Linked DNA regions of Homo sapiens: region 2 is linked to region 1. The links come from fine-mapping of genetic effects on gene expression. A gene starts in region 1. The other region holds a variant in brackets. All regions are shown on one strand. Distances are from middle to middle. Region 1 holds the start of RREB1 (ras responsive element binding protein 1). Region 2 overlaps RREB1 (ras responsive element binding protein 1).

Evidence for each region. PIP is the estimated chance that this variant, and not a neighbour inherited with it, causes the effect.
Region 2: its variant is fine-mapped to the expression of RREB1 in fibroblasts (GTEx, PIP 0.99).

Annotation. Positions count from the first base shown.
Region 1 is chr6:7,100,537-7,115,683 of GRCh38, reverse strand. RREB1 (ras responsive element binding protein 1) reads right to left here and starts at 7,723. Exons shown (of 13, transcript NM_001003699.4): 1 at 7,624-7,723. RefSeq lists silencers at 1-228, 6,355-6,444, 6,465-6,954, 7,745-7,964, 8,025-8,504 and an enhancer at 8,855-8,914.
Region 2 is chr6:7,244,909-7,260,055 of GRCh38, reverse strand. RREB1 (ras responsive element binding protein 1) reads right to left here. Exons shown (of 13, transcript NM_001003699.4): 12 at 12,835-13,632; 13 at 8,076-11,545. The coding sequence ends at 11,088. Among named protein-coding and RNA genes, the nearest start is that of SSR1, 61 kb to the left of the region's middle. RefSeq lists an enhancer at 1,175-1,674. The variant A/G (reference allele first, on the strand shown) is at 7,733.

The DNA of each region.
Region 1 (15,147 bases):
AAAAGCACCAGAACGCAGAGTGCGTTCTGCAGGAACAGGACTCGTTACCACGTATGGGACTGCAAAGGTGGCTGCAGAGCAATGGCCCTGAGCACCATCAGTGCGACTGACACCAATGGGACACTGACTAACCGCTGGTTTAGATGTAAAAAGAGCTATCTTCAAGTATTGCACATGTCTATAAAGTGGGAGCCCAGGCCACTCTAGGGGTGACTCTGCCTACCACTGGCAGCCCTTCCTTTTCTGGAATTCGATCTCTGTCTCCCTGTTTTCTTCTCCCCTCTATGGTTTCCTTACCTCCTGTCTGTGTGATAGGCTGGGGGGTGGGGGGGAAGGCCAAGGGTCAGATCAGTTAACACTTGCTGGCTAAAAGATCACTCCTGACACTATATTAGACATTTCTGGTCTGAGGCCTGGGGTCCCTTAACATAAAAATAATCACCGCCTCCTACCCTGCATCCCCTTACTCCCTCCCTATCCCTCCCAACCACAGCAGCTGGCAGCCATCCACCCTCTCAAGAGGAGATGTATGGACAGAGCACCCGGCTCAGAAACACTGCCCTATAAAAACGGCAGACGGTTATGTAAGAATTTTGCAAAAACTTGAGAAAATAAAACAAGGGAGACTACGAATGCAAAAACATTAACTGTTAAGCAAGTAAGGGCTAGTTCAAACACTTAAAAAAAAAAAAAGGTATACTCCACATAACTTAGAACATGAAGGAGGCTGCAGATGACAGCACCAGAGCAAGTTTCCCAAATAACTGAAGAGGTGACTGGGAAAGCTGAGCCATCGACCACAACAGCTTCACAAAGCCAATGAATCTAGTTTGTTTTAGAAGTAGATGACTTCTAGAATTTTCATTTACTACGGGGTTTTCAAATATATTTAATGCCACTTAACATTTTCCTCAACCCCAAATTTTCTGTGAAACTTCGAACTTGCCAACCATGGTACCTCAGAGGCAAATAAGAGCTTACTTGCTTTATGGAATTTCAGATTTCTAAATATATCGCATGCAATACAGGCAGCGCACCCAGTGGACTTGTAGATGAGACCCAGGCCACGACTACTGTACCTTTCAAGCAGGCTTTCTCAACCTCAGCTCTGCTGACGTATGGGGGTCGTTCTGTGCACTCCAAGATGTGGAACAGCATCTTTGGGGTCTATGCACTAAAGGCCAGTAGCAGCTCCCCGCTGCCGCCCCCCCCCCCACCAGAAACACTTAAAAATGTCTCCAGACAGTGCCAAAAGTCCCCTGGGGGCAAACCCACCAGGTTGAGAACCACTTCTTCAAAGAGTAAGCCCCAAGCTTGTCATCAGCTTTTTCCTTAAAACTCATCCCTCACCCTGATCAACATGGTGAAACCCTGTTACTACTAAAAATACAAAAATTAGCTGGGCGTGGTGGTGTGTGCCTGTAGTCCCACCTGCTCAGGAGACTGAGGCAGGAGAATCGCTTGAACCCTGGAGGTGGAGGTTGCAGACAGGCAAGATTGTGCCACTGCACTCCATCCTGGGCGACAGCAAGACTCTGCCTCACCTAAGTGAACCACATTAAGAAGAATTTGCTAGTCCTGTTAGTCTCCCAGCACTAAAAACAAAAACAAAGTGCTGCATTTCCCCAATCTGAACATAAACTCCTAGGCAAAATTTGACTAAGGTAATGGAGGTGTGCAAAATTCTGGAAAGGAAATCCAGAATGGATACCCACAAAGCTTCCTGAGCTCAAAATATACCACTTTCTTCCGTTTATAGATTTTGACTTTCTGGAACATCTACTTTATCCTTACAACAATCTCATGAGGTAGAAAGGCTACTAAAAAGATACATGTCATCACAGTTCATCAACAGAAATGCTACCAAGAGCAGAAGTGCTTTTTAAAATTTCCTTATACCTTCAAACTCAATTAGGTTTATTTTGAAAAGGATCTGGTCTTATTTAAAAACCACACACCATACACATGGAGATAAATAGGCAGTATATATTTAATGCTGCTAAGTCCTCCTGAGGTCAAACTGACTCTAAAAAGCAGCTGTTCTACAGGGCTAGGCTGGAGTTAGGAGTTCTGGGTTCCAAGTTTGATTCATTAACAGCCCCCGGGTGGACCACCGCGCAGCTGTAAAATGGGTCAACATACCCACCCAACTCCCACAGTGTTCCTCTCAGCATGAACGTGGAATCTTTGCTAAAGGCCTCCACAAAAGCAGGGTGAAATTAACTAAGTCCTAGAAGGTATATCTGAATGAAAAAGAAAAATTTTAAAGTGATTAAACCACCAGAAGTATCAGACACTTTCATAACAATTCTATCCCATAGTCTCTGAAAAGGGGGAAAGAGATGAAATACCAAGCAAACTAGAGAAAAACAAATAGAGCATTTAAAAGCTTTATCTAATTACCCCCACTGAGACGTTTTCTCTTCACTCTGGCTGTCTGACAATGCCTGTGGGGGTTTTCATTCTCTTTCTCCACCCACCCTCATGATGTCTGCAAGCCCTCAGGTGAATCCCTGCAGGAGCAGTCAGGACCCAGTCCCCAGTCCCCGGACTTCACAGAGGTTTTCGAATTCTCTTAGCTTTACTGGCTTGAATCACACTGAACAAACAATCTCCACCCTCTCCCATGCTTTCGTCTGAAGCACCTACTCACAGTCAGCCACCTCTACTGATGGGCAGACTGGCTAACTTCAGTACCCTTGAAGTCCCACCAGAAATAAGATGCACCGATCGCTCCCAGTCTCCTCCTCCCCATCCGCTTCACCCCAACCCGCCACTGCCAACGGCAGAGTGCAATCCCCAGCTACACTCGGCTGCAGTTCAGACCACGCTGAACACCAGAGAACGTGACAAGAGAAATTGGGCGGAGCACAGTCGATGACATTGCCGACAGGACTGCTAACAAAAAAGGAAAAACCCCTCTCCACCTTCCTCATTCTTTTACCTCCGTAGTAATGAAAACAACAGTAGTTTTCTTTTCTGTATTCTGCCTTCTATGGGAGTGGGGGAAATGAAAAATAAGTGATGCATTTCAGAGAGCACACCGTATGCCTCCCTCTGGGTTTCATACGGTGTACCTTTTACCTTTGATATAAGGTACCTGCAACCCTGCAACCCTCACCCCCCTGTGGAAATCACTGTCTGACCCTTGCTCTTTGAAAACTGCCATGGCTACTTCTACTCAAAAATCACTGTCTAAATCAGGAAAGAAAGAGAGAAAAGAAACAGAAAGAAAATACATTTATCAATTTCTTAATTATATTTGGACATAAAAAATATGACTCAACACTGCCTGTTCAATAGGTCAGATGTACAGAAATTAACCTTGAAGCAGGGAAACTTTTGGCTTACAACAGGCTTACCATTCAACCAAGAGATGATAGTTACTCATCATGGCTTCAATTAGATTTCAACCATTTTATCTCAATGAAAAACTTCAAGATACTTGAACATACTTTTGGCAGAAATGTAATGTACATCACACCTATTTTTGTTTTCTGACATTTGGCCAGTCCTTCCAAAGATACTCTGAACCTAATATAATTATTTTTAAAAAGATAGCTATGAACTGGGCGGAATAAACTGCACTAGGGAGGTGGAATGAAATGGAGGAGAAGCCCTATCAAAACCTAATCTAAGGGAATGGTAATCTCAGTAAAGGGGGAAAGAAAGCTATTGTCCCCTTATCAGGACAGACTACATTGCATACTTTCTACTGATACTAAATTGCATTTCTATCTTTGAATACAAATCTGTTTCATGCGGAATAAAAGACATAACTTTATGGATTATGCAGAATTTCCAAAACAAACCATGGAATCAGTTATTAATACTAGAAATAAGAGGGTACTATACACACAAATCCTCAGGAAGGTTCAACCTGAACACACTGGTAATAGTCAAGAAGTCCACCAGACAAGCTGCCATCTGACACCACAAGGCTGGTCATAGAGTACTGAACTTCAATTAAAGACACTTACAAAAGAAAGAGATTATTTAAATATAATAACAAAACCAAAACAAACTTTAACATCCTACCTTCCCAGGTCAAAGGACATAGAAGATTCAGAAATTAACTAAACCTAGTAAATAATGTAAAACAGGGAATGACTCCCTTTCAAAAATGCTTTGGTTAATTTTAGCATCCTTCTGTTTAGCTGCTTAGCAACCCTTATCCTATGACCTTCTAAGCACCACCTACTTTTCAGAAGGATAATGAACAGAAACATCAAAAGAATTCACTTCTGTTTCCAAAGAATATATTTAACCAATTCTTATAGGAGTTAAATTTATATTAATTATGCTGAGCAAAATCCTAAAAGGGTAGCATTTTAAAACTTCATTAACTAGGACATTTCCTTAGCTGAAGGTGATAAATGATGTTAGCAAGCAAGCATAAGATAGCAAGCAAAGACTTCCTAACTGACCTCAGAAGTGGAATAACGCAACAGTTCAAAATTGAAGAGCAAAAACGACCTAAGGCAGCTACACTGTACAGTGCCTGGCACACAGCAGGTAACCAATAAACTGCTGTTGATCAGATGCTGGACTAATACGTGTAGGTTTATTTTCTTCCTTCAACACGCTGTACCTGTGTTGGATACAAATAAGGCCTTGGGAGTCTGCCCGAAGAAATTTAAAAGACCCTTCAATCAAAAGGTCGCTTGTTGGATGATGTAACTAGTTAGGAATGGATGCACTACCTGTACCAGCTCAATAAGACGCATGTTCCCCATCACATAACAAATACTTGTCTGCCATAAGGGCTTAGAGTCTGATTTTCTGATGAGAAATAAAGCAGTATCTAGAAAAACCCAGAGAATGATATTCCACAAAACGGTAAGCATCGGCAGCATTTCTTAAGAGTATTACACATCCAGCAAATCCTCTTTAAAAACAAGACATTCTAAAATGCAACCAGTTTAGCAGTATTTTTAAGACAAAGACAATGCAAGTTCATTAACCTAAAATGGAGCACAAGCTAAGCAAATAACTAAATCAAAGAGTTCTTCTCTCCTTTTCTTTTGTAAAAATGGGGGAAAGGTATTTTTTTAACACATTTAAAACTTGATTAAAGCCATTCAAATGTTTAATTCATCAGTGTAACCAAAGCTCAAAGCACATCAAAGCAGGACCCATCAGCGGGTACCCAGAAGGCTCCCTCCAAAGGGCGGAGGTAAACACATACACACACACACACACACCACCCCTAAAATTAGTGATTCTGTCTTTGTATAAATTACTTGTAGAGTAGCTCGAACCCATTCCTTCAGAAGTTCTGTGGACTCTTGAAGATAGCACAAAACTCAACGTTTGTTTTTCAAAGAGGTTTTAGCCAACACTTTGGCCTCTATCTAACTCAGACTTCCGGGTTGAAATATGTCTTAGAAACTATACCTGCCTACTTGAAAAAGCACCAAATCTAGAGGATGATTTTCATGGGTGTGAAAAAACAAAACTAAACCACATTCTTTTCTTGGCAGTTCTCTTTTCCCCACCTTCCACTTCAATTAAACTTATTTCAGAATCAACTCGCACACATGCAGGGTCCACTACATATATAAAGGGGAAAAAAAATATCAAAAATAATGGAGATGCACTAGCAACTCTGCCTTTGCAGAAATCATTTCTTCTTAAGACAGAAATTCCTCGCTATTTCCAGCAACACCATTCAACAGGCAAACTTTATTTCCACTGGCTTTTAAAGAGCTAAGCTTAAATCTAAACTCTAAGAGGGTTCAATTTTCTACTAATGAAAACCCCCGGACAGGTTTTTCAACATACCAAAACGTTATATTTTTTTATTCACCCTTTTGTCTCTCTCCACATCCACCACCATCACAAGCAGCAGCAGCAGGAGCATCCTCAAACGAAGAAAACCCCTCCAAAGTGCCCCGAATGTGTGCTGCTGCTGGCTCTGAAGCCGTGTAGAATTTCGTAATGGAATGTGAACTGCTCGTCCGGATCTGGGCTCACGTTCTATCTCCTAACCAGTAAGGAGCGAGGGAGGGCAAATCTGCTGAGCAAGGAGAAATACTTTCCTCCTCTTTTATAACCCATCACGGATGCACGGCGGCCGAGGGGCGCGAGCTGCACGCGGCGCCTGTCAAGCGGCCCGGGCCCGCACCCCGTGGGGTCCCCGCGTCCCCCAGCTCCCCGCCCCGCCCGGAGAGAAAGGTGGCCTCGCCCATCGGTGGGCTCGGCCGACGCGCCCCGCACTCACGCGCGGCCGCGGAGCAGGTCACATCCTCGACGCGCCCTTGGCCCGGTCCAGAAAACACGCCGCTTCCCAGGGAGGGGGTCGGCGACGGGAAGGACCTCCCCTGCTCCTTAGCAACCATTAAGGTCGCAGTTTCCTAAGAGACCGCGAGCGGGGAGGGGGCGCGGGGGGCCCGGCCCAAGGCTTGTGCGGGAAGTTGGGGGCGGGGGGGGCAGCAACAGGCCCCCTCCCCCCACCCAGCTAGACGCCGGGGGCCGGGATGGGAGGAGGAAGGGAAGCCCCAGAACTCGTGAAAAACTGGTCCAGCGGGCGGCGGACAAAAGTTTCCGAGCGCGCTCCACAGCTGGGCGGCGGAGCGGGCCCCGGCGGCCGGCCCCGCCTCGGATGCTCCCGGCCTCCTTCCTGTGCTCGTGACGGCGCCGAGCCCCCCACCCCCCCCGCCCGCGAGGCAGGCTAGCTCCACACCGAGGGCTCCCACGAAAACACTCACCCCGCCAACGGAAGGGCGAGGGAACAATACGTGCCCGCACGGCTAGGGCCCGGTCCCCTCCTCCCCAGGCCCCCCGGGGCGGTGGTCGGCGTGACCACGACCGCCAGCCGGGAACCCGCGAGGGCGCGGGGCTGCCCGCGGCCCCCTCCCGGCCGGCGCCGTCCGCCCGGGAGGTTCAAAGTCCGCAGAGCAGGGCGCGGCGGATGCTCCCACCGAGCAGCCCCGAGCAGGCACCCCCGCGCGAGCACCCCGGGCAGGCACCCCCGGATACCTTAGGGCGGCGGCGGGAGGGCGGGCGCCGTCATCTCCGCGCTTCCCGGCCCGAGAAGGACTCGAAAGTATGTAGGAGAAAAGTTTCCCCTCCCACATGGGGGGGAGGATGTCGAGGGAGAGAGGGCGGAAGATGGAGAGCAGCGCTGGGAAGATGTTTCTGGCCGGCGGTGCGCGCACCATCCGAGTCCCGGCGGTGCTGGTTAAAAATAAACTCGGCGGCGCGGGTCGGGCCGGATTCCTGCGCTCGGACGGCTAATATGGATGCGCATCAGGTCCTGCTGGCGGGGCGCTGCGGCGGCTCGCGCTGGGAGCTGGTTGGCAGAGCCGGCGGCTCGGGAAAGGGAAAAGAGCGGAGGAAGGGGAGGAGGAGGAGGAGGAGGAGGAATGGCCCGGCGCGCAGCCCGAGGGGAGAGGGCTGCCCCGCTCATCCCTGGCCGCCCCGCCGGCCCGAGCGCACGCTGCGCGGAGTGGGGCGTGCGGGTCCCCGGCTCCGGGACACACCGAGTTTCAAAAGTACAACGCGCTCTGCAGACTTCACCCTCCCCATCCCCAAAGTTCTTTAAAAGGTCGCTCCGGCTGTGCCCCAGACTTCTCGCTGCCGCCGGCGTACCGCGAGTCGGAATCCGGGGCACGTACTTACGGCCGGGCAGGACGCTTGGCTCCCTGGCATGATGCGTTGGGGACCGGTGGGCTTCAGGGAGAGACCGAGGAGAGATGCAAACTTGTTCCGGAAAAGGAATCAAAATGGCGTTTCTGGATGTGCAAAGTTCATCAACTCCGCAGTCACTTCCCCTCCTCCTCTTCTCCCACAGGGAGGGAGGTGGGCGAGGAGCTGGCGACCCCGGCGCCCCAGCCGTCGTCCCGGCCCCCGTCTCGGCCCCCCGCCCAGCTTCCTCGCCCGCACGCTCGGAGTCTCGCTCTCCCCCTCTCACCCTGATAAGTAGACACATCACGTGTTGCTCCTGCGAGTCTCCTGGGGACGTGTTACTGAGCGGCCGCGGCGGCGGCGGCGGCGGCGGCGGCGGCGCTCGGACTGGGGGGGGTGAGGGGGAGGACCGCCGCCCCCGCCCCGACTTTAGCAGGGTGACCGCAGTTGCCATCCCGGGATGGATGGAGGTGGAGTCCCCTCCCCACCCCCCACCGCAGCCCCAGGTTTGCCCTACGCCCTCCCAAGGCGCCCCGGGCCATGGGAGGGCCGGGCTGCCCGAGGGGAAGGGTCCGGGAGGCCGCGACTGGCTGCGATCCCAATCGTCCCGTTGCTCGCGGGCCACCTTATTCGGCCACCGCGCCCCCTCCCCTGCAGCCCCTCGCCGCGGGCGACTCCCCGCCCCCGGCTTTCCATCACTTCACTCCGCAGTTTCACTATTTTAACGGAGGCGGGGGAGACACGGTGATGCCTCGGAATTGCGAGAGGGGCACCTCAGAGGCGCTGGAGTTGGGGGGATGGGGGGCGTAGGGCTCGGGGCCCTGGCCTGACGCCGCCCCTCTGGGTCTCCGAGGCATCTGCGAGGGGGAGCCCCGCCCGCGCCGTTTCCTTTCCACGCGGTCCTCGCTCTGCATCCAGGTGGGGCGAGTGGATGATGGGGCAGGAGATTAAGGAGCAGGCGCTTCACCCCGCCCCTAGCTTCGAGCCGTTTCTCTCCCGGGGCCATCCTTCTTACTCGGGCTGCCGCCCTGAGTGTGCTCGCCGTCTAACAAACTCAACTCCGACCCGACTTTGGTCCCCCTCCCTTACCCACACCCCACAAAGGATGCTTCAGCGGGGAACTGCCGTGGCCGCCAGGGGCTGAGGACGGTTCCTGCCGCCACTGTGTCCCCACCCCGCGATGGAATGGCTGATGCTGTGTCATCCACGTCGCCCTCCAAGGCTTCAGAGAAGCCACACGCAGTATCTCTTTCTCTCAGAGGGCTCCTGTTTCAACTCTGAAAAGCAGGGGCCCTTCTCCGAGCCGCTCTCCATCTCTCCAGCTCCTGCCACCACGCTTCGCACTGGCTGCCTTGCCCCAAGTTATCACGGAGCCCAGAGAAACCAGGCCTGGGCTGTGCTTCCTCCATAAAGCAGCTGACATGTTTCCAACTGTTAATACTTCTCCTACCGAGGTTCTGAAAGGGGTCTGTTCTCAGCCTTTGGAAACATCTTCAGAAAGATAAGGATGATTGTGGTTGTTGAAAATAAACACGCCCCCCCCCCCCCGCCCCCGTAGTTCTAAAGAAGAATGTCCAAAGAATACTACAGTAGAATTAAGCGTTTGAGTCTGGTTAGGCAAGATGATGTTATGCAGGCAGAAAGCTGGCTACTTTCTATTTACTATGACCTTTGACCCTGGCTCCACCACACCAGCTCCTCTGAGAAGGCTTGAACACCATGGAGAGTTGTAAGCCCAACTGTGGGCCTTTAATTTGAGCCCTTCCATTGACCTCTAGTTTTCAGGGCTGCAGACAGAAGTGTCTGTCTCGGGATGGGTCCTGGCCAGAATAGAACTCTTTAGAACCAAGGAAAAGCAGCTGGACCCTTAGGTCTGATATGAGATAAGTAGGCTAAACCACTGCCCAAGAAGGAGCTGATTCAGCTGGCTGTTTCTCTGACTTTCAGTCATCAAAATTAAGTTTTCGGAACCTGTTATGTTTCCCAGGGTCTACTGTTTACTGAAGAAAACTCCATCCAGAGAAATTTTAGCGGTTGCATTTTTCTGAGCCTCCCCCAACCCCGCCGCCCCCAAATGTATTATCAAATGCTTTTTTGAAGACAGGCCAGTCGTGGAGGAGATGGGCAGGTCTCTAGACAGGAATAATAGTTCACATTGCCATCATAGAATAGGTGTCTTGTGTTTCTAAGTTGTAATGTGTTCCAATGAGGGCAGAGGAAGGGCCCTGTGGGGAATGCTACTTTATTTACTCACTTTGTCTCTGATTCAGGAGCTAGCCTTTCCTGGTCTCCCCATTCAGGGATAAGTTTTGAATAGGAAAAATATCAAAATTGGAATTTTATGCATAATTTAGCAAATCTCCAATGCTATATGAATTTTCATGACAAATTGCCACCTGTATAATGCCATCTAGAAAATACTGGCAACAAAAAAGATTGAAAACAGTTTTACTACAACTTTTTTTAATTTTTTTTTTTTTTTGGAGACAGAGCATCACTCTGTTGCCCGGGCTGGAGTTCAGTGGTGGGATCACAACTCACTGCAGCTTTGAATTCCTGGTCTCAAGTGATCCTCCACCTTTAGCCTCCCAAGTAGGTGGGACTACAGTGCATGTCACCACATCTAGTTAATTTTAAAAGTTTTAGTAGAGAGGAGGTCTTGCTATGTTGCCCAGGCTGGTCTCAGGCTCTAGGGCTCAAGTGATTCTCCCACCTTGGCCTCCCAAATTGCTGGGATTACAGGTGTAAGCCATTGTGCCCAGCCTATTACATGTTATATTTTCAAAATTGGAGTATCATGATGCTGGGCCCTGTGTTTCTCATTTCTAGCTAATTAATAAACTTGGCAGTCAAACCAGCTGTTCAGGAGTCATGCTATCTAAACCATGATGAGATGCCACTTCACACCCACTAGGATGTTTATAATAAAAAAACAGACAATAAGTGTTGAAGAGAGTATGGAGAAATTGAAACCTTCATACATTGCTGGTGAGAATGTACAATGATGCAGCCACTTTGAAAAATAGCTTGGCAGTTCCTCGAAATGTTAAACACAGAGTTGCCATATGACCCAGCAATTCCGCTCTTAGGTACATAAACAAGAAATGAAAACATATGTCCACATAAAAACTTGTACTCAAATATTCATAGCAGCACTATTCACAATAGCCAAAAAGTGGAAACAACTCAAATATTCATCAGTTGGTGGATGGATAAACAAAATGTGATACAGCCATACATAGACTGTTATTCAGCCATCAAAAGGAATGAAGTACTGATGCACGATACAACATGGATGAATCTTGAAAACATTATGCTAAATGAAAGAAGTCAGACCCAACAGGACAAATAATGGATGATTCCGTTTATATGAAATGTCCAGAATAGGCAAATTGATAGAGATGGAAAGTAGATTAATGGTTGCCTAGAACTGAGGACTAGGGAGAAGTAGGGATTGACTGCTAATGTGTGGGGTTTCTTTTTGGGATGCTAAAAATGTAGTAGGCCAGACTACCCCTCTCCCCACCTCCTCCCTCCTCCCTCCTCTTTCCACCTCTCCCCTTCCCCCTCCCTGTCTCCCACTCTCTCACTCCCTCTCACTCTGCCATATAAGAAGTATCTTGCTTCCCATTCACAAAACAACAGCAACAACAGTGTAGACCAGGCAAGGTGGCTCCTGCCTGTAATCCCAGCACTTTGGGAAGTCAAGGCAGAGGATCGCTTGAGGCCAGGGATTTGAGACCAGCCTGGCCAACGTGGTGAAACCCTGTCTCTACTAAAAATACAAAAAATTAGCCGGGCATGGTGGCGGGTGCCTGTAATCCCAGCTACTTGGGAGCCTGAGGCAGAAGAATCGCTTGAACCCAGGAGGTGGAGGTTGCAGTGAGCTGAGATCGCGCCATTGCACTCCCGCGAGACTCTGTCTAAAAAAGAAAAAAAAAAACATCCTGGCCAACATGGTGAAACCTCGTCTCTACTAAAATACAAAAAAAAATTAGTTGGGCATAGTGGTGTGTGCCTGTAGTCCCAGCTACTGGGGAAGATGAGGCAGGGGAATCCCTTGAACCCAAGAGGCAGAGGTGGAGATAGCAGTGAGCCAGGATCGCACCACTGCACTCCAGCCTGGCGACAGAACACAACACCATCTCAAGGAAAAATTAAAAAAAATTAAAAACTTAGCCAGACATGGTGGCATATGCTTATAGTCCCAGCTACTTGGGAGTCTGAGGCTGGAAAATCACTTGAGCTTGGTAGATCAAGGGTGCAGTGAGCTATGCTTGTGCCACTGCATTCCAGACTCAGCGACAGAGTGAGACCCTGTCTCAAAAAAATTAAAATTAATTAAAATTAAAGTGTTTTAAAATTGATTGTGGTTAGGGTACACAACTCTAAATATACTAAAAATCCATTGAATTGTACATTTTAAATGGGTGAATTGTATGGTATGTGAGTTATATCCCAATAAAGCTGAGCTGTATAGACATATATGGAATTGTGCTGGGTTCTGTAGTGGAGAACTGATACAAAAATGGGTAATTTATAATCTGTGCCTTAAAAGAGCTTGCAATCTGATCTCTGCATCCTCATGATGTAATCATGAAATAAAATAATATATTATATATTATATTATATATATTATATTATATATAATATTATATATTATATATATTATATTATATATAATATTATATATTATATGTTAATTAACATATAATATTATATATTATATGTTAATTAACATATAATATTATATATTATATGTTAATTAACATATAATATATATTAATATATATAATATATAATATAACATAAAACATATAATAAAAAACATTAAATACATACCAAATTCAGTTCAGAGCAAAGAGATCACTTTTTTTGAGACGTAATCTAACATATAATAAAAAAAATTAAATACATACAAAATCCAGGAGTTCAGAGCAAAGAGATCACTTCTTTTTTTTTCTTTTTATTTTTTTGAGACATAGTCTCACTCTGTTGCCCAGGCTAGAGTGCAGTGGTGCAATATCAGCTCACTGCAACCTTTGCCTCCCGGGTTCAAGCAATTCTCCTGCCTCAGCCTCCTAAGTAGCTGGGATTACAGGTACCCACCACCATGCCCAGCTAATTTTTGTATTTTTAGTACAGATGGGGTTTACCATGTTGACCAAGTTGGTCTCGAACTCCTGACCTCAAGTGATCCTCCCGCCTTGGCCTCCCAAAGTGCCGGGATTACAGGTGTGAGCCACTGTGCCCAGCAGAAATCACTTCTTTTTTTCTTTTCTTTTCCTTGTTTCTTTCTTTCTTTTTTTTTTTTTTGAGACAGAGTCTCACTCTGTTGCCCAGGCTAGAGTGCAATGGCGCAATCTCGGCTCACTGCAACCTCTGCCTTCTGGGTTCAAGCTATTCTACCGCCTCAGCCTCCTGAGTGGCTTGGATTACAGGCGCCCATCATCATGCCTGGCTAATTTTTGTATTTTTGTAGAGATGGGGTTTCACCATGTTGGCCAGGCTGATCTTTTTTCTTTTTTTCTTTTTGAGTTTCGCTCTTGTTGCCCAGGCTGGAGTGCAATGGTGCGATCTCGGCTCACTGCAACCTCTGCCTTTCGGGTTCAAGCGATCCTCCTGCCTCAGCCTCCTGAGTAGCTGGGATTACAGGCATGCGCCACCATGCCCAGCTAATTTTGTATTTTTAGTAGAGACAGGGTTTCTCCAGGTTGGTCAGGCTGGTCTTGAACTCCTGCCCACCTCTGCTTCCCAAAGTGCTGGGATTACAGGTGTGAGCCACTGCCCCTAGCCAAGATCAATTCTAAGAAGAGTGATCAGGGAAAGCTTCATGGAAGAGAAAGTAATGGATTTGGGCCATGGAGAATGACTAGAAATTCAGTAGATGAAGATTGGGAATTAAAAACAGCAGCAGATACAAGAGCACGATTGTAACAAATTATGGGTCCCACTCGGAGACCAGTAAGGATTACAGCTTGGCTGAATATAACATTTACAGGAATAGATGGGTGATGAGACTAAAAGGTAAATAAGCTGAGCCTGTCCCACGAAAACTTCTGAATATTGGCTGTGGAAAAGCTTAGGTATCAAGGGCCTGAACTAGGGTGAGGGTAGAGGAGGTCAAGAAGCACTTCAGAGGAAGAACTCACAGAGAAGCAAGCGGTGGACCCATAATGGAGGGGGAACGAGGGATGGGGGGTAAGGTGCAGAAATCAGGGCCAAGATGATGCCTGGGTCTTAGCTAGGTAGCTGACAGAAGGACAAAAATGAGAAAGTCAGGGAGAAGGGGAACCCATTTGAGGTGGAAGGTGACAGAGTAGGTGATATTGAGCCTGGAGGTAGAAATAAATGGACAACAGAGCTAAGCTGTGGAAGAGGATCATGAAGAAAAAAGGTGTGGATGCTGGAGAAGGCCACTTGGATGAGGTCTCACAGCTGTGTAGGTGTCCCCAGGCAGAGAGGAGGGGGCAGGGCACTCCAGCCAGAGTGGGCAGGGAGCTGCAAGCACAAGGGCACAGAGGCGTAAAACAAGGTCAGTTTCCTGAACTGCAAATACCACCCTCTGGAGCTGGAGCAGCAGAGGGAGGAGGGGAGGCAGCCAGAGATGGGGCTGTAGGAGTAGCCAGTGGGCCAGATCGCCAAGAGCGCTATGCACAGCGGACTTGGACGTTATCCAGCAGTCAGGCCGTGAAAGGGCTCACGGAGGAGGGTACCGTGGAGGATGGTCTGAAGGATGGCAGGACAAGGCAGGAGGGGGAGTTAGGAATTAATAGTAATAGAAGAATTTAGTTAAGCAAGAATAAAGACCTAGGGAGGCACTGGCTGTAGGGGTGGAAGAGGCACTGGCTGTAGAGGTGGAGAGGAATGGATTCATCTGGGACATAATTAGGCCATAGAATCAACAGAACTTGACCAACTGACTGTGAGAGGAAAGGAAACAATCCTTCTGGAGCACTGACCAGGGTGTGTGGCAACAAAAGAGGTGAAACTGCCGCAGCAGTTAGCGTGACCCGTGGCAGTGCAGGAAGGACCAGAGACAGGAGATGTCAAGGGGACAGATCCGCAAGGCTTGGTCCCCGTTGGTTGTGGAGTGAGAAGTCATGGAGTTAAGAAGGCCGATTCTCTGGGCTTGGCCTTAGATAACTGGATAGAGGGTGTGTCCATTCACCAGCGGCATGAGTCGTGGATGGGGGTGCGACTTGTGGAATTGGAGAGGAGGGGAACTCAGGAGGGAGGCCTAAAGACACGTCTAGGTAAAGAGACCATGGACAATGACAGGCTAGGGCAGGACCCAAGGAAATGGCTGCAATTCAGTGGAAAAAGAAGAGGGAGTGGTAAGAGCTCCTTCTCTTTTGCCTCTAAAGAAGCAGAACAGCTAAGGGAAAAGGTGGCCCACAGTGTTAAAACACAGAGAAACCACACAGAATGTGGGATAATAGATGCTGGAGACTTGGAGGGGTGAGAGGGTGGCAGGGGGTAAGAGTACTTAATGGTACAATGTACATCATGCGGGTG
Region 2 (15,147 bases), 140 kb before region 1:
CCCGGCATCCTTCATGGCACCACCTCCCCCAATTTCCGGTGACAATGTTGAAAGCTTGAGTGCGCCCCCATTGCAATCTTCGTTAATCAAGTACTGCCAAATGCGATCTCTCCAGTGCTCCTCTCCTCCCCAGCCCACTTCAAACCCTCATTACCTTTTCTCTCTCTCCCCAACTCCTTTTTTTTTTTTTCTTTGAAAGGGCCTTGCTACATTGTCCAGGTTGGTCTCGAACTCCTGAGGTCAAGTGATCCTCCTGCCTCAGCCTCCCAAGTAGCTGGGATTACAGGTGCACACCACCACATCTGGCCCTCGTTACCTTCTGCCTAGACTGTTTGATGATTTCTCTGCTGGCTCCCCGTCTCACACTGTTGCTAGGACGTTTCTAGACCACAGTTCCGGTGCATTCACGGATGCCCTCAAGAACCTTCAACGGCTCCCACCTCCAGCAGGAAATGAACTCAAGTGTTCAGAGCTCTCCTGACTCCCTGACTCGCTCATGCGTCTATTCACGGTCTGCTGTGCGGCGTGTCAGCCAGTGGCCTGCCTCCCCTTCCAGCCGTAGCCCACACCACTCTGATGTGATGGGACACCCCGTGGCCAGCTTCCCTGTGCCCTGAGCTTCTTCCTGGCCCCGGGCCGGCGACGCTCCTCCACCCTGCTGCAACCTGCAGAAATCCTTCCAGGGGCCTCGTTCTATAAATTCTGTCTACATGTCCCCAAGCAGCAGTGCCCCCCACCTCCAAATGCCCTTGATGCTCTGGGCTTGCCACTCCATTTAACAGTGTCCTTCTCGGCTGTTTTCTCCGAAGCGGCTGGAGGGCAGAGTCTGTGTCTCATTTGCCTGAGATTTCCTCCCCTGCTGAGCTCAGGGCCTGCAAATATTTGCTGGGTAGACATGGATGGACAGCCTGACCAGGACGCCTCCTGCTCCCAGCACTGCCCCTCCCCGTCTGGGGTCCTCCTTCCGAGTCATCTGGATACGCCAGCAAGCCTAGATTCTCATCTGCCTGCCGGACTCCCCGGACTTTTTCAGAGATCATTGCAAAGCTCACCGCCATAAAGCCAATCTGCAAACACTTTTCTTGCTTCTTTTTTTAACCTCAATTAAACACACTAAAATACATAAATGAGTAAATAAATAAATAACAGGACAACTTGGTGTGGTGTAATTCAGGTTTGGTAAACAATGATGGTGTTCTCTTCTTACTCGCACCCCCTCCTCTGCCACCTCTCTCACGCTCTCCTGCTCTCTCCTGCCACCCTCCAGGTGCCCTCTCTGACCCCACCTCCCCTCCTGCCCTCACTCACAGTCAGGAAGGCTTCCCATTTCCTCCCGACTTCCCCAGTGGGACCCAAGTCCTTGGGAGTCAGGACAGAAGGTGACTTGGGTGGAGGCAGTGAGCTAGGAAAGAAAGGCAGCAGGTATGATCTGGGCCATTCGGAGGGCAGGGCAGGGGCAAGGAGGCTTGGCTGGCTGGGTGGTGCTCTGGGGCCCATCCACCCTGAACTGGGAGGAAGGGTGTTGCCCCCATCCAGTGAGCATGGGTGGCAGGGGCACTGAGCTGCAGAGGCCACCACCCCAGAGCCGCCAGAGCCACTCTTGACCAAGCACTGAGGACCAGCCTTGGCACAGGCCCTGGGTGGAGAAGTCCCAAGGACACCAAACCCACCGTTAGTGCTGGCTTGACTGAGCCTCCCTAGTGCTGATACCAGATAACAAGTGCAACTGTGTCCAGATCCGAGGGCAGCCGTGGGCGTGAGATTCATGGGAGGGCAGGGCCGCCAAAAACAGGAGTGGCTGGTTCAAAACACTGAACGGGGTCAGGGGCCATTGGTTAGGCCTTGGTATGGAAACAGAATTCTAGGTGGGGACAGACGGGGGCCCCACAGACAGGAGCGTGGAGCAGTGCCATGGGGTCAGCAGGGAGACCCGACAGGACCAAGGAGCTGAGGGAGGTGGGCAGGGTCAGCAGCAGGGCCGGCTTCCTGCAGTGGGACCCCTGCGAGGGCCTGTGCTTGGAGTTCAATGCTCCCAGGGCCCCATCTTGAAACTCTTTACGATACTATCTTTGAACTGAGATTCGTCAGTGAACTCTGATGGGACAATGGAGTGTGCACTGGCTGCCGGGAGCCCTGGCTCCTATGTGGTCCTGCCTCCCTCTCTCTCCTGCCTCCCTGGGACGGGCTCTTGGCCACTCAACCCCCTGCCCTTGCCTAGTGATTGCGGCCCCCTTGGCTCCTGGTGGAGGCCTGGGTGTGGAGGCAGAGAGGGTCGGGTGGATGTGAGATCTCAGGCACCTGTGGACACCTGCATGTAAGTATCCCAATGTCTAAGGTAATGTGGCCTTGGAGAGCCCATTGGCCGGGCACAGTGGCTCACGCTGTAATCCCAACACTTGGAAGGCCGCGGTGGGAGGATTGCTTGAGCCCAGGAATTTGAGACCAGCCTGGGCAACATGGCGAAACCCCATCCTACAAAACATACAAAAAAATTAGCCGGGTGTGGTGGTGTGCACCTTGGTCCTAGCTACTCGAGAAGCTGAGGCAGGAGGATCACTTGAGCCTGAGAGATTGAGGCTGCAGTGAGCTCAGATTGCGTCGCTACACTCCACCCTGGGCGACAGAGTGAGACCGTGTCTCTTAAAAAACAAAAAACAAAACAAAACAAAAACAAACACAAGATGGGCACAGTGGCTCATGTCTGTAATCTCAGCACTTTGGGAGACCAAGAGGGCAGATCACTTGAGGCAGCCAGAAGTTCGAGACCAGCCTGGGCAACATGGTAAAACCTTGTCTCTACTAAAAATACAAAAAAAATTAGCCAATTGTGGTGGCATATGCCTACAGTCCCAGCTACTCAGGAGGCTGAAGCACGAGAACTGCTTGAACCCAGGAGGTGGAGTTTGCAGTGAGCTGAGATTGTGCCATTGCACTCCAGCCCAGGCGACAGAGTGGGGCCCCACATTTTCATTTATCCATATGGATCCCAGCATTATGAGCCAGCCCTGACAAGTGCGTATCAGGAGACCAGGGACCCAAAGCTTCAGGGAGGTAAGCCAGGTGGAGGCAACTGCTCCTAGACTCAGTGCCAAGGTCGAGCCCAGCCACAGGTTCTTAGAAGTTCCCTTTTGGGGGGTAGGTGGTAAAGTTGGGTGGGAGCACCTGTGCCAATGTATGTAGAGGAGTGGCTGCAAAAGCAGGGAAAGAGGCCAGGCAGGAGGCTTGAAGGAAGTTTCCAGTACATATCCTAGATATCAGAGAGTTACCCCAGACCAAACAATGGCTCCATTGCAAACAATTTGCCTTGGTGTTAGCTTGAGGGGCAACTAGAGGTACAACTGAGGGGCAGGAATCTGGAACAGTCTTTAACAGAGCCCTGGTTTGCAAACTTTTCTGGGCTTTAGCAAATTCTCTAGGAATTTGCTAAAAATGTATATGGCTGGGTCCTCCCTCCTGAGATCCTGAATTAGTAGATCTGAAATGCAATTTTTTTTTTTTTTTTGAGACAGAGTCTCACTCTTGTCACCCAGGCTGGAATGCAGTGGCGTGATCTTGGCTCATGGTAACATCTGCCTCCCATGTTCAAGTGATTCTCCCGCCTCAGCCTCCCGAGTAGCTAGGATTACAGACACCTGCCACCATGCCAGCCTAATTTTTGTATTTTTAGTAGAGATGGAGTTTCACCATGTTGGCCAGGCTGGTCTTGAACTCCTGACCTCAGGTGATCTGCCCACCTTGGCCTCCCAAAGTTCTGGGATTACAGGTGTGAGCCACTGCACCCGGCCTGAAATGCAATTTTTAACAAGCAACCCAAAGAATGGTTCTTTTAGTGGGTAGGTGAGTGGGTGGGTTGTACACACAGAGGCACCTGATATGAGCGAGAAAAAATGGTCTTGGAGGCTCTGCCCTAGCTGATGCCTCATGGAGGACAGATGAGCCATCCCTGCAGAGCCCTGCCCAACCCACCGAATCCTGACCCAAAGTTTTGGTGTTCTTCGTCATGCAGCAAAAGAGAACTGGAACAGTTGGGAATTTACTCAGTGACCCTGGGAATATGTATGCCAAATATCTATGTGCCAAATCACAACAGTGCCATGTTTCCTAGAGGCCACGCATTCCTAGTTTTCAGTAACTCCCTTTTCAGTGGACGACACACACCACCCATTCTTGGGGACTTCTGTTTTAGGATTTTTCTGGTGGAGAATTTCATCCCAACAAAAGCACTCAATAGCCAGCTGACCTGGGCAAATCATTTCAATGCTCGTCCCTGCTCTGAAGGAATAAGGATTTTTTTTCCTTCACAGCTCACTGGACTTGGGTGAAGAAAAGAAACAAAAACCACAGGAAAACACTGCAGTGTGCAAAGTCCTGTACAAACACATCTGAGAATGAGGAAGGGAAAAGTGAGGCCCAATGAAAAGAGCAACACTCACCAAATTAACACGGTATTTGAGAAGCGAGATGACTTCCTTAATTTTCTTTATATTTTCCTGAAGCTCCTAAATTTTCCACACTGAGCAAGGCGTTACTTTTACGTAAATTCCCATAAAAGAGTCATGTCAGATCCATGGAGGAAGGCAGGGCTGGGGAGCAGCTGAGCCCCTTGCTGGCCCCACAGCCTGGGAAGCAGATGCCACCGTGGGGACATGAATTCCTGCCCTGACAGCTGGGCAAGACTTGAAGTGGTGAACGGCAAGGGCCAGGGATGTCACTTCCCCACTGGGCTGTGGCTTCCTTCCCCTAACAGTAAAACGGGAAAGGAGTGACCGCTTGTTTCTTATTTAGGACACTGACTCTGGCAGTCTAGAATTGGAGGGGACTCTTTTGTTGCTAAAGAGCAACCTTCAATTACAAGCTTAAAATAAGCCTAGTCATCCTCCCTCACTCCTGTCCTCCTCAGGGAGGTGGTTATGAAGGGGAGAGGCCTGAGCGCTCCAGGCCCAAGGCTTAACACCAGGACAGGCAAGCAGGCAGCTGGCGCTGTTGGCCAGTGGTTGGAGGCCCCACTCGCTCCTCAGCCCTTTCAAAGTAGCCTTTGGAATCCACAAGGATGGCAAACAGGCAGAAACCCCAAACAAGACTCTTGGGGCACTCGGGTTTAGGCAGTGGCTGAGTCTGTGCTGGGGCTGGAGTAGGGACTGTGGAAGGAACCTCTGGAGGGCCAAGATCGGCACTCTCTAAAGCCATATGTGGCTTCTGCCCACTCATTCTGAGATGGATTCTGTCTTTGAGGGGGAGAATCCACAGCCGTCTCTGCAGCCAGCTGCCGAGTCCGCCATCCACCTTATTCTGAACCAAGCTTTGGGGTCTAGACCGGAGCTTCTCAAACTTCAATGTGTGCACATATCCACTGTGGCCCTTGTTCACATGCAAATTCTGACTCAGCAGGTCTGGGTGGGTCAGAGGTTCTCATTTCTTTTATTTTTTGGTTTACGTTTTTATTTTTGTGAAGATGCGATCTCGCTCTGTCAATCAGGCTGGAGTGTGAACATAGCTCACTGCAGCCTTGAGCTCCTGGCCTCAAGCGATTCTCTTGCCTCAGCCTCCCAAAGTGCTGGGACAACAGGCATGCACCACCGCACCAGGTCAACCTGAGGTTGCCATTTCTAACAAGCTCCCAGGGATGCTGATGCTTTGGGTCTTCAGACGACACTCTGAGCAGTAAGGTAACAAGGGACTAGGCCTCATCCTGGGTGCTAGGTCTATGCCGCCAGCTCCCCCATCCCCATGCCCCATGCCCTCCTCCAGTGGAGGAGGCTTTGGTCCAGGGTGGGGATGCTGGATAAGCACCAAGGCCCAGGCAGAGTCCTGGGGCCATGGGGAGGTCACAGGCTGAGCGGGAAGGTAGTGGGATTACAGGGCCAGAGGAGGCCAGGTAGGAGAAGGTGACAAGACTCCCTGGGGTTCAAAGACAGTGCCTGCATCTTGGTGATCTCCCACAAGGCCCTCCTCTGGCTGTTCCCCGCACTGTGCCATGAATGTGTGTGGTGAAGTTCTACCTACTTCCTCACCAGGCAACCAAGGAAGCATTCCCATGAGAAGACTGTAGAAACAATAACGAGAGCCCCTAACATGCACCTTATGTAATTAACTCATAGCATCCACACAACAGTGCCCATGAGGCAGGTACTATCGCTATCCCTTTCTTAGGAATGGTGAAATTGAGGCACAAGGCCATTCACCAGCCCGAAGAGGCAGAACTGGGATTGTCATGCCAGCCAGCTTGTCCCCAGCAACACAGCTCGTGGCCACTTCTTTGTCCTGCATCTCTAACACAGCGCAGGTGGTTGGCTATGTCTTTGGGCGGAGGACCTGAGGTTTGAGATCCGCTTACCCAGGGCTAGTACATCTCCACCTGCCACCGCCCACTCAGGCATGCGGATCCCCCAAGCTCCCACATATAAATGTGTGTTAAATTCTACGTCTTTCAACAGAGGGGCCTGAAAAAGCTTAAGGACCACAGCCACAGCTCTGGTCCTGCAGGGAGGTGGCACTTAGCAGTGTATGGTACAGTGCACTCAATGCATTTTAGCATTATCCACAATCAGCCTCCTCCACAACCAACTTCTTTCAGTGTTCGTTTTTTTTTTTTTTTTTTTTTTGAGACAGTTTCACTGTGTTGGCCCAGGCTGGAGTGCAGTGGCGGCATCTCGGCTCACTGCAACCTCTGCCTCCTGGGTCCAAGGGAGTCTCGTGCCTCAGCCTCCCGAGTAGCTGGGATTACAGGCACACACCACCACACCCAAATTTTTTTGCAGTTTTAGTAGAGATGGAGTTTCACCATGTTGGCCAGGCTGGTCTCGAACTCCTGACCTCAAGTGATCCTCCCGCCTTGGCCTCCCAAAGTGCTGGGATTACAGGTGTGAGCCGCCACTCCCGGCCCAGTGTTTGTTTTTTTGAGATGGAGTCTCACTCTGTCGCCCAGGCTGGAGTGCAGTGGTGCGATCTCGGCTTAATACAAGCTCTGCCTCGCGGGTTCACACCATTCTCCTGCCTCAGCCTCCCGAGTAGCTGGGACTATAGGCACCTGCCACCATGCCTGGCTAATTTTTGTATTTTTAGTAGAGATGGTGTTTCACCGTGTTAGCCAGGATGGTCTCAATCTCCTGACCTTGTGATCCACCCACCTCGGCCTCCCAAAGTGCTGGGATTACAGGCGTGAGACACCGCACCCAGCCCCCAGTGTTGCTTTTTGAGAGCCACTCCCTAGTTATAGGAGTTGAGGCTCTGCTAGGAGTTGGGGCTCTGCTGATTGCTATTTTACCCAAATGTGAGTTTTAACCTGCACCATCCCCAGCCCTAGGGTTGCTGTCCCCTCCCGTCTCACCAAAATCTGGTCACACTAACAGATTTTGTTCTCCCTCCACTAGGTGCTGACTCAATCACTTACCACTGGGTTGGAGGAAGAAGAGGCGAGGCGGACTTCTTAGGCATTATTGCACAGGAAACAAAAATGCTGGCTTTAGCCAATGACAGAGTGGCCTGCACTGTGGTGCCTCATTAGGTCCAGCCTCCTGGCCCTGTGCACCCAACACCAAGATCTCCACTCTGAAGCTCTGACAGTGGCCATGCACTTAACTTTCCACATGCTCTCAAAGCAGCTCTCACAACTGCAGCCGAGTGCTTTTACATACAGCAGGGTCTTGCTGTGTCCCCCAGGCTGGAGGGCAGAGGAACGATCGTAGCTCATTGCAACCTCAAACTCCTGGGCTCAAGCGATCCTCCTGCCTCA[A/G]CCTCCCAAATAGCTGGGACAACAGGCATGTACCACCATGCCAAGCTAGTTCTTAAACATTTTTTTCTAGAGATAGGGGTCTCACTATTTTGCCCAGGCTGGTCTTGAACTTCTGGTTTCAAGTGAATCTCCTGCTTTGGCTTCCCAAAGTGCTGGGAGCATAGGCAAGAGTCACTGCCACAGCCTCCAGCGCAAATAAAAATGCTGCCTGGGTGACAAGAGCTTTCCTGGGCACCTGTGACTCCCCCCAATGGTACTGCACACCTGGGACCTGCCCCAAGTGGGCTGTGGGTTTGGGGATGGGATCACAACAAATCACAGGACGGCCACGTGACCGGCAATCTGCAGCTTTTAAAATATAACATTTATTGCTTAAATGGTTTGATACAGAACAGCTTTCTTCTCATTCTGAATTTGGAAGTTCTATACAACTGAATACAAAGAGGAACAAAAAGTACCAAAACCAAACTTGTGATTCTCTGTTCATGTGGCATAAACCAGTTTTGTACATAACATGTAGCAGCAGTTTTTAAGTTCCCTTTAGAAAAATATGAATTCTACAAATTTATTATTGTTTCCTGTTTAATGCATGGGCTGAAATCACTAGGATCAATTTCCTTCTTGAAGAAAGAGGAGAGGAAAGAGACGAACAGAGGGTCAGAACGCATGGTGAATCTTCCAAAACTGGCATCCGACTGTTACGTAGCTTCCCCAGCGCTGCTTGGAACACAGCCCTCTGGGTTGTTTTGTTTTCACAGCCAGGTGTTTCATGTAGTGATTGAATCTCAGCATCATGTCCATTAATCAATGAGAAAAAAAAAAAAAAAAAAAAAAGAGAAAAAACTTGCACCTCAAAAAACTTTTCAGAAGATCCATATATATATATTTTTTTGTAAAAGCCCTGAGAGAAGGAGAAAGAGAATCAAACAAAATGTATAGAAACAAATTAGCTGGACATGCAAACTAAGCTATGATTCACCCAGAGTTTAAACAAATCACAAATTTCACAGTTTAATATTGGGGGGTGGGGGAAGGGCAAAAACAACAAACAAATAATACGTTTCTCCACCTCACTAATAAAATGTGGCAAGACCTTATTGACTACGAGGGTACAGATCAAGGCTAAGTAAAGCTTTAAATCAATAGTGATTATTGCGAGCGGCAGCCCCAGCTACACACGTCGCTGGGAGCTGATTACTGCTACATCTCACCGCAGCGTAGAGTTTAGTCACAGCTTCTCCCCACAATATTGCAAGTTTAGTGTGGAGAGTCGCAAAGAAAAAACACAAGAAACCCCAAATAATAATAACAACAAAAACAACAATAACAACTGTAATAATAATAATAATAATAATAAAAACCCTAAGGGATGTATGAACTGGTTTTAACTAAGTAGGCCAAGGGATCATTGGTTCTGATTTGCATTCATCTCTACAGTAAATAAAACCTCGTTTTTAAACTGGTTCATACACCCCTAATACAGTTAAAAATCATATATACCTCAACCTTTTTTCCTTTCGTATGCGAAGATATCACTTTTCATTATCTCAAGAATATCTATCTTCCTGTGAAGTCTGGGAGGTTGGATTTCAGAAACTGGTGAAGTGGCGGAGAAAAGGGGGCGTGCACGTTTCTGTGTGAACAAGTCTATGTAAAGGAGGAGCACTGGGGCCAGAAAAGGCCAGGGGAAGGAAGCTGGGGTACAGGGGTGCCTCCCCAGGGGAAGGCAAGAGGCTCCATACACTGCAGCAAGCACAGGGGTCCCCAGCAGCAGGCTGGCTGGGGACCCCTGAGGTCTTGGCTGAGGGACCAGGAGCTCAGGTGCAGTGGGGTACATTCTCCTCCCTGCAGGCGGAGACAGTGAGGGAAGTCTATTGCCTGCACAGGATGCTCATGGGTAAAAATAACCCTGCCTTTTTGCATCCAGGGGTGTGGGCTATTTAAGAAACTAGAAACAGCACATTTATCTTCAAGCACCAACCCCACATCGCAGGAAGGTAAATATAAACCTATTTCTTATCTGACATCTTGCATGTGTAGTTTTATTACCAGTAGTAGTATTTCCTTGCTTTGCAAATGACAGTAGCACAGCTGGGTAAGGCTTGGATTAGGCTTAGCAGGAAGACTGGGAATACCTCGCTCACGAGTAATGTGCCTGGTCACTGGGTCACTGCTTTGCTTTCTCCAAAGTCATCTCTGCAGTGCTCCAGGCACGGCCCTGGCTTCTTGATGCCTGTTCCCTGGATGCATGCATCCTCACTCCACCCTCTCTGAGCTGCTCCTGGACCATGCTTGGGAAGACTGCTCACGGCCCCTTCTAAATTCTGCAGTGACAGAAGAAAGGCTTGTCTCATTACAGTAGAAGAGCTACCACCCGAGGGTGCCAACCACAACCGCAGGCACACGTTAACACGGGGACCTGGGTGCGGCACAGGTCTCCCAGGACAAATATTGCCCATTTGATTCTGCTCACTGCAGAGAACAGCAAACTGATGAACTAATAATAATAATAATAATAATAATATTAATAATACATATACTGAAAGGGAAGAGGAGGCAATCAAATATATCCTATCCGTGCATGTTTTCCATAGGTTAAGACGCCAGGGGAGTAACTCTTCTCTATAGTTAAGAATGGATGTCTTGAAACTTGAACAGTGACCATGTCTAATGCTGACAGACTGGAAATGGACATGAGGCTGAAGCTAGAATCTTCCCTGGTTTTGGCCTGAAACCATATTGGAAACCTTCATCAACCACATCCTGTAATACCAAGGACCAGATGACAGCTCCACCATGAAGCACAAAGAAAAAAGGAAAATGTCTATTTAAGAAATTATCATCTTATCCATCTTTCCTCTGGTCATTTACATGAAATTCACATCATTTTCTTCCAGTTATTGGCTATGGGTACCCAAGGGTATGTTTTTTCCTTCTGTTTCCAGCTCACAGAACAAACGGTGCTATCACAGATTCACAAGAACAAGCTCACACACACCAATACAAAATAACGCTAATGCTCAAATGAAGAGGTCCTCTCCAGACAATTCATTATAATATTTGTTTTGTTTAAGAAGTCATTTTGGAAAAATACAACACCCATGATAATATGGAGGGATCCGGTAAGTAGTTAAGGCACTGGAATCGGCACGGGCTGTGGCCTCCCGCGCAGGCTGCGGTAAGGCTATGGCACTGAGCGAGCAGCCACGCTCCTGCTTGTCTCTCTCTCTCTCTCTCTCTCTCTCTCTCTCTCTCTCTCTCACTCCTCAACAGCCAAAGGGCACTGAGGAAACCCCATGAAGTATAGACGCTTTGCTCTGCTGGCTTTTGTCTGTGCTGAGGGGGACTGAGGCTGTCACTCCATCCCCACGAGCTGGGAGGCGCCATCAGCTGTGGCCAGGATTGGGTGGGCAGGCCTCTTGCTGCGCGGCTCCAGCAGGTCCTGCCCCAGGGCCGCCGGGCTCTCTGGGTTAAGGTCACCCTGGCCAGGCTCAGACGGCCACCCTGCCGTGACCTTCTCCTCCCTGTGGCTGCAGTCCTTGGTGGCACTGGCCAAGCCCTCCTTCCGGCTCCGGGTGACAGCCATGTGGTTGCTGGCATTGGGAGCCAGCTCAGCCTCGTTCTCTGAGACGGCGTTGTTGCCGCTGTGGGTGGACTCATTCTCGCTGTCCTCCTCACCCCGCTCTTCCTTGTCGCTGTCCTTCCCGTGGTGTTTGGCATGCCTGGCTTTCTGGTGGATCCGCTGGTGGCGAACCAGGCTGTGCTTCAAGGTGAAGGTTCGCTCGCAGGTCTGACATTTGTATGGCCTTTCCCCTGGAACAATGGAAGAAAGAATTTCCATTAACCAAAAGGCACCAGTACCCACTGCACCCTGCTCTGCACAGGAAGAATGAGGCTCCCAGGCTATGTGCGGGGGGCCAGGACTCCGTCCTACTCAGCCAGAGGCCTCTTCCTTGAACCAGCAAACTGAGGACGGACAAGCTCTGTTTGCTGGTTCAAGCTGTCAGTCTGAGACCTTTCCTCTCCTTCCTCTCTCAGCCCAGGCACTCTACATACTGATCCAGAAAACCCAGGTCCCAGAAGCAGAAGCCTCAGGAGATGTGCAGACTGGCCTCGACCAGAGACTGGGAAGGAATCTAGAGGGGGACAGGAGTGGACCCTCTCAGGGATCTGTATGGACAGCAGCACCTAGGTCGGGGGCACCAGTTACCCTCTGCATTGCGATGTGGTGCAGCGGGGGCTTTCCTGATGGCTCACACGCCAGGCCCAGGGCAGGGCCCACCACGCTTGTTGGGAGCCCAAGAATATCCCTCTTCTGAGAGCCAAGGACCCTGGCCCTTCACACGGGCAAGCGCAGGGCAGAGCCGACTGCGCTGGGTCGGGGCACATGTGTTCACTGCGGGCTGCAGCTGTGACAGGGAGGGAAGCTGCGGCTGAGAGGAGGGACAGGTTATTTTGGAAAGAAGAAGGATATATCTCTGGACTCCATGAGCATATTCAGGTCTTTGTGTCAAAGTAAGCGCCCCTGCTCTGGGGTCTGCAGCCTCCACCCTGCAGGTGGTGGGTGAACTCTAGAACGGTGTGAAGGGCAGTGGCTAAGGGTCCTGTCCCAGTCATCTCAGCCGAACTGCACGGCTAAGAAAGGAAAAGGCCCTCCTGACCCTAATGGATCACCCAGGGTGCCTGCCCCACAGCGGCCTGGGGCAGTGCCTGTCGTCCAGGCCACAGGACTAGACAGGACTAAGTGGCCCAAATGCCCAGCACAAGCACCCTCTCCTAGATACCTCTATGAAACAGGGCAGCTGTTACCCCCACTCTACAGATGGGGAGGCGGAGGCAGCAGAGCTAAAGGCGGATCACAGCGTTCTCAAAAACACAACGGCCAAGGACCCTCTCCTGCCTGGCTGCAGGAGGCCTGCACCGTCTTCAAGGGCTGAGAGTACAACTCCTTAAAACTCCTAGTTCACGGGCTTAAAGGGCACACCGGCAACGTAAGCAAACGTTCTCTCGGTGGCCTCCAGCGCCGCTTCAGGGGAGCTCCTAGGAGAGGTGCCCGGCTCGCCTCCTCTTGTTGGGCCGGGGACCTGGCCTGCCCTGGTTACCTGTGTGGGAGCGCATGTGCCGGGTCAGGTCCTGCAGCGACCAGAACCGCTTGTTGCACACGCTGCAGACCTTCTTCCTCTTGTCTGCCTTGCTGGCCACGCTTTTGGGGGAGTCTGTCTTTGGTTTCTTGTCATCGTCGCTCTTCTCTGAGGACCTTTTCTCGGCCGCGCTCTCCCCGTCGGAGGGGCCCTCCGTCTCCTCCGCGAGCTTTTCCGCCGGGGCCTCCCCGGCACCCGGGGCCGACTCCACCACCTCTGCCGGGGTCTCGGGGGGCTTCTCCTCCTGTTCAGGGGCGGGCTGGGGCCCCTCCTCTGCAGTGCTGGCGCCATCTCCCTTCTCGTCCTTGGGCTCCTGGCGGCCGTGCGCCTTCCGGTGGCGGCTCAGGGTGCCCAGGAACTTGAAGCTCTTCCCACAGGTGTCGCAGGCGAGCTTCTGCTCCTGCGAGGCCGCGCCCCCGGCGCCTGCCTCGCCGTCGCCCTCCGCCAGCTTGAAGTCCATGAGCTTGGTGGCGAAGTCCAGGTCCAGGCTCTGGTTGCTCGACGCGTCCTCTTCCGCGCCGTCGGCGTCCCCAGTGCTCTCCTCAGTGCCATGCTCCTCCTCCGGCTCATGGCTCTCCCCACGCCCGTGCTCTTCCCGGTGCACCGGCGAGGCCGTTTCCGCCGTGGCCTGCTCCACAGGCGCATCCCCTGCGACCTGGCGGAGCTCAGTGGCGCCCTCCGACGGCTGCTCTCTGTCCCGTGAGGTGAGGTCTAGCACTTCGCCCGCGGCGGCTGCAGTCTCCGCATCCGACTGACTGTCTGTGGGGCAAGCACAGCGGGGAGGGCTCAGAGGGGCACCACCAGGTACGCCCATGCCAGGGATGTCGCCGGGAATGGGCTAGACCCACGCCAGCAGCCTGAACCCCAAACCAGTGAGGACTTCTTTCGGCCCAAATCCTCACCACCTGTTACATCCCCCAGGAGGACCAAGATGACCCTGGGGACGTGAAGAAAGGCAAAAGCAGCCTCCACATCACCTCAGGTGTGTTCCCAGGGCTGGCTGTGCCCCTGAACCCCTGGCTTCCACTGCCCCCGCCCCCAGGAAGGTGTGAGTGACTCAGGCAGGGCAGACAGGGGCTGCGAGATAGGAGAGGGGTGCATTCCAGAGACTCGCAGCGCTAGGGAAGTTGAGGAAGCTTGAGTTATAAGTTATTTTTCCAGTGCAAAGAGATCATACAAACATGCAACATACACAGGACCACCCCTACCCCTAATCCTCCAAAGCATGGTCTTGATGAGTTTCACAGGAAACGACCCCAAGCCTGCGTTGTGTGTGTATGGTATGCACACTCTTGCCTGACGCTCATCTCCAGGTGGAGGCTGCAGAGACCCAAGGGGGCGCAGGCAAGCTTGTAGGCTTCCTAGCTGTCAGCCTCCCAGGGGTGGTGGAATCTTTCAAAGGAAGGGCACCCTTGATGCCAGGCTTGGCAACAGCACACAGTGAGGGGAGCGGACTGTGAAGGGCTGTGGGTGCCTGTGAAGACAAGGGGTTCTGGGTTCCAGGCATCTCACCTACCCTGACTTCCTGCCTCTTGATTTGTTCCTATCTGTCCATTCCACCCAGTAAAACTGTATGTGGAAAGCCTATCAGTTTTCAACAGTCCTTTTAAGGGATGGCACGGCTGCAATATTCACATCAAACAGTGTCAAAAGGCCTTCTCTTTACTAAGGTTGAAAGAAGACTTAATAACTTCTTAAAATTATGCATTACGACAGTACATTGGAAGCTGGTGGGACCTATTATTTAGCTGCAGATCCTATGTCTGATTTAGTTTTTATTATTTTTTCAAGACGGAGTTTCGCCTTGTCGCCCAGGCTGGAGTGCAATGGTGTGATCTCCACTCACTGCAACCTCCACCTCCCGGGTTCAAGCAATTCTCCTGCCTCAGCCTCCCAAGAGCTGGGATTACAGGCGCCCACCACCACGCCCAGCTGATTTTTGTATTTTTAGTAGAGATGGGGTTTCATCATGTTCGCCAGGCTGGTCTCGAACTCCTGACCTCAGGCGATCTACCCACCTCAGCCTCCCAAAGTGCTGGGATTACAGGCGTGAGCCACCGTGCCCGGCCACTGTCTGATTTATTACTGCAGGGATTCAAGTTCCTCTGATAATTGGGTGGATGAAAGTCATTGTTTTATGGCACAAGTACGAGATGCCCCTCCCTCAATAGGCCAGATGTGATTGCAGTCCTTGAGCCAGCAGATTCACGCACCTAACCTGGATTCTCACTTGACGTGATCAGGTGTAACTACAATGTCAACCTGCATCCATCA